Homo sapiens: one gene and its partner. The protein of the gene in region 2 purifies or fractionates together with the protein of the main gene of each other region. This does not show direct contact. Each region holds a gene or a part of one and is shown on either strand. Other genes may lie near its edges. The genes, in order: LEMD3 and MAST4.

Region 1 (3,819 bases), on a different chromosome or scaffold from region 2:
TGAGTACATATATTTTATAATTATAAATACAGTTGGCCCTACGTATACATGGGTTTTGCATCCATGGATTTAACCAACCGTGGATCAAAAATCTTAGTGGCAATAAAAAGAAAAAAAGTACAATGGAAAAAATACAGATTTTAAAAATACAGCTATCTATATTCATTTATATTAGGTGTTATAAGTAATCTAGAAATGATTTAAAGTATAAAGAATGATGTGCATAGGTTATATGCAAATACTATGCAATTTTATATCAGGGACTTGAACATCTGTGGATTTTGGTATCCATGGGGCATCCTGGAACCAATCCTCTGTGAATACTGAGGTATGACTGTATATATAAATTAAATGTTGTAGTTTTATTTTTTTAAGCAGATAGCTGTTTAGCTCTCATCATGATTATTTCTAAGTTCATAATATCCATTGAAATGATCTCATATATAAACCTTTTTTCAATCATTAAATACATTGTCTGCAATTTTTTTGATGTTTGTAAATGCTATAATAAACACCCAAGCTTAAAAAAACAGATGGCCTATAGTTATCTTCACCATCTTAAAAATCCTAATAGTAGTTTCATGTAATGATGCCTAACAAGATTAGTTCTGCTTTATAAAACTTTTTATTACATTTGCAAATTTGATACATTAGAATAACTTACCAGTTTTATATTAGGAAGTAAACTATACTGATCAAATGAAAACCTTATAATTTCCAATGCTGTTGAAGAATCTGTTGATAAAATACAATAGGACACTTCTTAGAAAAATCTTTTTTTTAGAGAGAATTTGAAATGACTTTTTATTTCTGTTTTTAGAAATTCATTTTTTCCTCTACGAGCCAGGCACAGTGGCTCATGCCTGTAATCCTAGCACTTTGGGAGGCCAAGGCAGGCGGATCACTTGAGGCCAGCAGTTCGACACCAGCCTGGCCAACATGGCGAAACCCCATCTCTACTACTACTAAAAATACAGTGATTAGCTGGGTGTGGTGGCACACGCCTGTAGTATCACAGTTACTTGGGAGGCTGAGGCACAAGACTGTGCTTGAGCCCTGGAGATGGAGGTTGCAGTGAGGCGAGTTCGCACCACTGCACTCCAGCCTGGGTGACAGAGCAAGACTCTGTCTCAAAAAAAAAAAAAATTCATTTTTTGCTCAAAAGGGACATAAAGACATACTAATAATACAAGCTCCATGAACACAGGGAATTTTTCACTGTGTTGTTTATGCTGCACCTCTAGTTTCTAAAATAGTACTTGGCACATGGTAAAGGTGTTTATAACAGTATTATATTTGATAAATTTTTAAAAATTGGACATATTCTAAATGTTCATTAATAAGGTGTTGATTAAAAGTATAGAATAATCATACAATGGAATACTATTTTGTTGAAAAAAATAGGGTTTTTTCCATGTAAACTGACATTGACACAATATTTTGTTCCATGAAGAAAACAAGTAGAACAGTAGTATGTGTAATATGATACCACATTTATTTTTACTATTTTAATTTAAAAATACTCTACCCACACATAGCAGTTCTTAAGCTTTTTGGTTCCCTATAATTACTGAGGACTCTGGCTTTTGTTTGTGGGAGATATACATTTATATGTTTTTGTTTCTATTAGAAAGATATATTTACTTTCTAATGGTAAATATGTATTACAAATACATGTTTATATTAAAAATTAAAACTGAAAAAAATTTATGTATTTAGAATAAGAAAAATGAATCTATTATATGTTAACGTAATGTATTTTTATGAAAAATAACTTTTCCAGAATGAAAACATTCAATGAGAACAGTGGCATTGTTATATATTTTATAAATCTCTTAAATGTGTAGCTTAATAAAAGGTGACTGGATTCTTATCTGCTTCTTTATTCAATCTGTCATGATGTTTTAGTTGAAGTATGTCATGAAAATCCAGCCTCACATTGATATGTAGTCAAAACATTGGAAAGTATTTTAGTTGCCTTTTCAGGTAATTGTAGATAGATATTTTCTTTGATACCATACCAAACCTCTATAAGTAGTAGTTTCTTAAATGTTAGTTGCAATGTGGAATGTCAGACTGTGCCAGTGAACTTTTTGTACTCTTGTCTCATAAAATCCTTTTATTTTGTACTTTGAATGGATCTTTTACCTATGCGTGATTGGTTTTTATAAAAATCAGAATTTTTCAAATGCATTGGTCATTTTCAGATGCATTGGTCACATTTCATTATTCCATATCAAAAAACTGCATTTGTTAATGTCACACAAATCTCATTGGAAAGGTCTTCAAGTATTGTGAAGTTGTCCAGGTCACAAAGATGAATGCTAGTTTTTCAAAATTCTACTTTTTACTTGAATGCTCAAATCTTATAATTGGTAACCCGGTCAGTTTTTCTTTAGTTGATAGGCTTACTGCTTTTATGTGTTGAGAATACTTGTCTGTGAAACATCCAAATCTGGAAGAGTTTGCCATTTATTTGTTCATCTATAAATAATATTGCATTTTTAAAAGTGGTAAATTCACTCTTATGATGGCACTGATAAACTAATGATAAAAAAAGAACTTCCAAGCCAGGCGCAGTGGCTCATGACTGTAATCCCAGCACTTTGGGAGTCCAAGGCTGGCGGATCACTTGAGGTCAGGAGTTTAAGTCCAGCCTGGCCAGCATGGTGAAACCTCGTCTCTCTAAAAGTACGAAAAAAGAAAATTAGCTGGGCCTGGTAGCTGATGCTTGTAATCCCAACTACTTGGGAGGCTGAGGCAGGAGAATTGCTTGAACCCAGGAGGCGGGGGCTGCAGTGAGCCAAAATTGTCCCACTGCACTCCAGCCTGAGTGAGAGAGACTCAGTTCCCAAATATGTAAAATATAAAAAAGCAAAATATTAACACTGATTATATTGGAGTAGTGGGAAAATGCTAACTTTTTTTTTCTTTTTTCTCATTCTTTTTAAAATTTTCTGTAATGAATATTTTATGTTATGTAGTTAAAATAAAAATGTTATATAGAGTGTGTTATAAAGGATACTTTACAGAGAGTCGAATGTAGATTAAGAATAGTTATTTTTCTCTATTTTTCTTGTTAGGATTTAGGTCCTGAATATGAAGGTATATTTAACACTTCATTGCAGTGGATCTTAGAAAATGGAAAAGATGTTGGAATAAGGTAAAGGATCTGATTTCCACTTTGACCATTCTGTACTGGGAGAAATGGTTTTTGACTTTAAATTCTACCTTACTTATTTTTAAATAGGTGTGTTGGTTTTGGCCCTGAGGAAGAATTGACAAATATAACTGATGTGCAGTTTTTACAGTCCACAAGACCACTGATGTCTTTTTGGTGTCGTTTTCGACGTGCTTTTGTTACTGTAACTCACAGATTATTGTTGTTATGCTTAGGTAAGTTGTAAAGATAAGAAATGAGATAAATTGCAGCCTGAATTTTTGTGTGTATTTCACTAAATGCCAGAGTTGAGAATTCATTTTTGTGATGGTTGCCACATAAGTCACAGCTAGATGTCTTCACTAAATATAATAAAAATAATGTCAGAATCATTCTAAAGGCTTAGAAAGCAGTAATATAAGGAGAGGTAGAAATAAAACTTTGTTATAAGACTGTCACAGAAAAACAAGTGTGGTCAGTATATACATAGAAATCTACTTTAGAAAGTAGAATTGAAAAATACAAAAATTGAGCTTATTTTTAAATAATAAAGTGTTATAAAGTTTATTAAAATTTAGTTTTTAAAATGTAATTTACCTACATTTAAAATTTTTATCATTTTTTAATTGATAATAGGGATTTAGGTGAGAGTTGTTTTT
Region 2 (3,819 bases):
CGTGGATCGGAAAGAACTCTGCCCAGTGGCTGAGGGGGACCGTTTCATGCCATTGGGCTTGTCTGCCTCCGTCGGTGGCTTCTGGGGACCGGGCCCTTTCCCTCTGGCCTCAGGGAAGCCCTTCCCCACCCCCGCGGCTGGCCGCTCCGCGCCTTTCAACCGGTTCTCGCTATGCACAAAGGAAAGGCCGGCCTCGAGCTTGTCGCCCTCTGCTGGAGCATAAAGTGCTTCAGTGCATTTCTTCCCTTCCGCCCTTCTGTCGGTGTTGGCGGCCGGCTGACTCGGGCTTTTGTCTGTCTGTCTGTTGTCTGTCTGTTTGCACAGGGTGGGGCAATCTTTCACAGTGGATGGTTTGGGGTGCTTTGGAGACAGGGTTTGCTTTTCACCAACAGCGGACAGTTTCTGGTCCGCTGGCTCACTAGGCCCTGGGTGTCCCGGCCTTGGCAAATGCACAGGCTTCTCCAGCACCTCCAGGGGCCGCCCACCACTGGTGGGTTGTGGCTTGGCGTCTAGAGGAGCCCTGTCAGTGTGCAGTGGGACAGAGGGCCCACCTTCTCCCTGGCCAATCCCATCGCTGGCTTTGTTCTGGGAGCCTGGGGTAGCAGGAAACACATCCGGCCCACTCTTACTGTGGCCCTTCCCCTCTCTGCTAGAGCCACCGAGGGACTGAGTGGCAGGCTCTTTGCCCTTTGTGGCCCCGACACTTGGTTTCTGAGAGGAGAGGGACCGGTCGGGGTGCTTAGTCTTTGGAGGGCCCGGGTCAGGGCCAGGCCGGGGCTTGTGGCTGCTGCTTTCACTGTGCGCAGCAACAGGCTTGGGAGGGTCCTGGGGGCTCGAGCTGGGCTCTGCAGTGCTGGGCTTGGCCCCCGGCTCTCTGCCAGAAGCGTGGCTTGGGGAACTGCAATGCTGCCTGGCAGCCGGGCTGGACAGGTCTTTGGCCGTCAGAGGGGGCGGAGGGATGCTGCTGGGATGCCTTTGTAGAGGCTGCTCCTTCCTTTCAGGTTCCTTGGCACCATCTTTCTGCAAAGATGGGAAACTGGAGAGCTTTTCACTCTTCTCACTCTCAATTCCAGGTGGCTGCAGAGACCGCCTGGCAAGAAGCGCTTCGGGCTTGGGTTCCACGCCACGCCTCACCTTGCCCAGCTCCTTCTCACAGGGAATTCCAGCTGAGTGCAGAGAGGAGTTGTCTCTGGGCGGGGGCCTCGCCTCACCTGGGCCATCTTTGTGGTTCGTTTTCCCACCCGGCGCCCATGCTTTCTCCATGGCCTGGGTCTGTGTATAGAAATCTGGGTGGGTCCTTCCCACAGAGAGGAGATTTTTGGAGTTGTCACTGGTTTTCGCAGTTTCTGGAAAGCACAGTTCCATGGAGGGCTCTCTGCATGTGTCAGCCCTCGCAGCAGAGCGCTCGCTTCTGGCTGTGGGAGGGCCTCTTTCAGACGATTCCCTCAGGCCTGGCTTCTCCCTTGAGGGGGAAGCTTCAGGTGGGAGCGGGCAGCGTGGCCTGGCCAGGTCAGGGCTGTGGAGGTTCTGCCCCAGGCAGGTCAGAAGCTTGGGGTCAGTGGTGTGGTCTTGGTGTTTAGGGGAGCTGCCCTCTCTCTGTTGGGGATTGCTTTCCATGACTGTTCCAGGGCTCCTGGCAGTAGGATGGGGACCTTTCCTGTCCCTCTTGAACTCTGGGTCAGGCAGGGAAACTGCTGGTGAATTCTGGAGACCTCGGCTGGGGGGCAGGAACCAAGGCTCCAGCAGGTAGGATTTATTCATCTTTAAGCTGGAAGGAGAAAGCTCTCTTGCACTGGTGGTATCGTTCTTTTTCCCACTGCTGCTGGGGAGAACTGGTGGCACAGAGGCCCTCACGTCACCACTTGGGCTGGGGCTCTGTGCAGACTCTGGGGAAGGCAGTTCTGTCTTGGAGGCCTGAGGTCCGGACAGGAGAGCAATGTCCAGAGTGCCCTCGATCGGCTTCAGGCATGAGACAGACCTACCTTCCAGCTTATACTCGGAGGGGCTCTTCCTAACAGGGGACTCAGGAGCAACCAAGCCAGGCTTCTCCGTTCCACTGTCCACCCGGCCTGTTAAGGCCTTGAGGGGAACAAAAGAGACGGCACTCATCTGAGCTGCATGGGTGCTGCTGACAAAAGCTCGGCTCTCAGAAGCCGGCGGGGGCTCCTGCTGCCCACCCGTGGGTCGGACTGGGTTCCCTGGCAGGCATTCGTGGGAGCCAGCTGTCATCTTGGGCTTCAGCACAGGGCAGAGGTTGTCCTCTTTGTCCTCAAGTGACATTTTCTTTCGGAGGTAATCGATGTTGGCCAGCTTGCTGTCTAACTTTTCACATCGGAGAAGCTCCTTGGCCTGGGAGGACTTCTCCGTGCCTTCCCCCTTCCCAGAGATGCCCCTGTCGAGGGAGTGGCAGAGACCATCCTGGAGGGTGCCAGGAGCGGGGGCCCGTCTGAAGTCCCCGCCACCCTGGCGGTGCTCCGCAGGCACCCGGCCATCCGACATCGCACCCTCGCTGGCGCGCACGCTGGCCTGCTTGTGAAGAGCATCCTTCAGCAGGCTGCCCAGCGGTGGCGCCTCCTGCATAGACGCTTTGTTTTCAAAAGTACTTGACCTTTCCACAGCCTTCGGATAGACTTTCTTCTCTCTCTCTTCCAGCTTAAACAGAGCAAAGTTTTCCAAATCACTCCCGGGTCCATGGGATTTCTGGTGGGATTCCTGTTTCTCTGGGAAGCCGTCTGCTTTCTTCACCACCACCTTGGCCTTCAGCTTGTCGCGGTCCAGGTCGTCCACAGACTCCTGGCGGCCCACCTTCCGGGAGACTGGGCGTTTCAGGCAGCCTTGCTCCACTGGCCGGGCGCGGCTGAGCGGCGGCACGTCGCACACGTTCTCATCCAGGCTCTGCAGCGGCGCCTCCCGCTGGGACTGCTCCCGCTGCACCTCCTCTTGGGTCACCTCCAGGCTGTGCTTGCGGGAGCACAGGTGCTTCTTGTCACTGCCGTAAGAGGGCGACAGCTTCTCCTCGGACTGCACGCGCTTGAGCAGCGGGGACCTGGGGGGCTCCGCACTCTTGGGCCTCACGATGTGTCTGACGATGGTGGGCGGGGAGTGCATCTTGCTGGGAAAGGCTTGCGCGATCTTGGAATTGCCCAGTGAGTGTCCCAGAAGAGGGGATGGTGACCGCTGCGGGGAGGTGGGTTGCGGGGTTGGAGAGGGCGTCCGGGCCAGCGGGGACAGTGGGATGTTGCCGGCGGACTTTCGCCTTCCGGACCGGTACCGCTGCCCGCCGAGTTTGGGTGCAAGACCGTGGAGAGTGCTGGGCCGGATGTGCCCGGACCCTGCTGGGGAATTGGGGGCACTAGAACTAGGGGAGCTGCTCTGGGAGGAATTAGTACCTGTGGATGGAAAACAGAAGGCTGTGAGCATCCATGGTCATTTTCCCCTTTTTTTCACAGTTGTAGCCCAGACTGTATTAGGTAAGGCCAGGTAAGATCAGCAAATTGTCTCAGCATTTAGCTAGTGGAATAAACACTTTTCAGATAAACCTCTCCAGGCCAAGGTTTAGCCCCATACTTCTTGACTTATTTGTTTGGTCAGAATAGCCACATCTTATGACCTCTCTATAAATCTGTCTTTATAATTTACACCTTCAACCTGCTTTCTTTCAGCTGGAACAAGCTTCATGTTTTTTGGGGACCTCACATGACTTTACCTCCCCTCCCCTCTGCTGTTTAGACCAGGAGACTCACTCACCAGATGGGAAGTCAGGGGTGGAGCGGTAGCTTGGTGTTGGAGACCGGGGAGACAAGCTATGAGTGGGGGAAC

The links.
Region 1: the proteins of MAST4 (region 2) and LEMD3 fractionate together in Homo sapiens (co-fractionation; one large-scale study listed by BioGRID). This does not show direct contact.

What each region holds. Positions count from the first base shown.
Region 1 is NC_000012.12:65,235,419-65,239,237, forward strand, and holds part of LEMD3 (inner nuclear membrane protein Man1), read left to right. Parts: intron 1-3,083; coding exon 3,084-3,163; intron 3,164-3,250; coding exon 3,251-3,396; intron 3,397-3,819.
Region 2 is NC_000005.10:67,162,717-67,166,535, reverse strand, and holds part of MAST4 (microtubule-associated serine/threonine-protein kinase 4), read right to left. Parts: coding exon 3,748-3,819; intron 3,390-3,747; coding exon 1-3,389.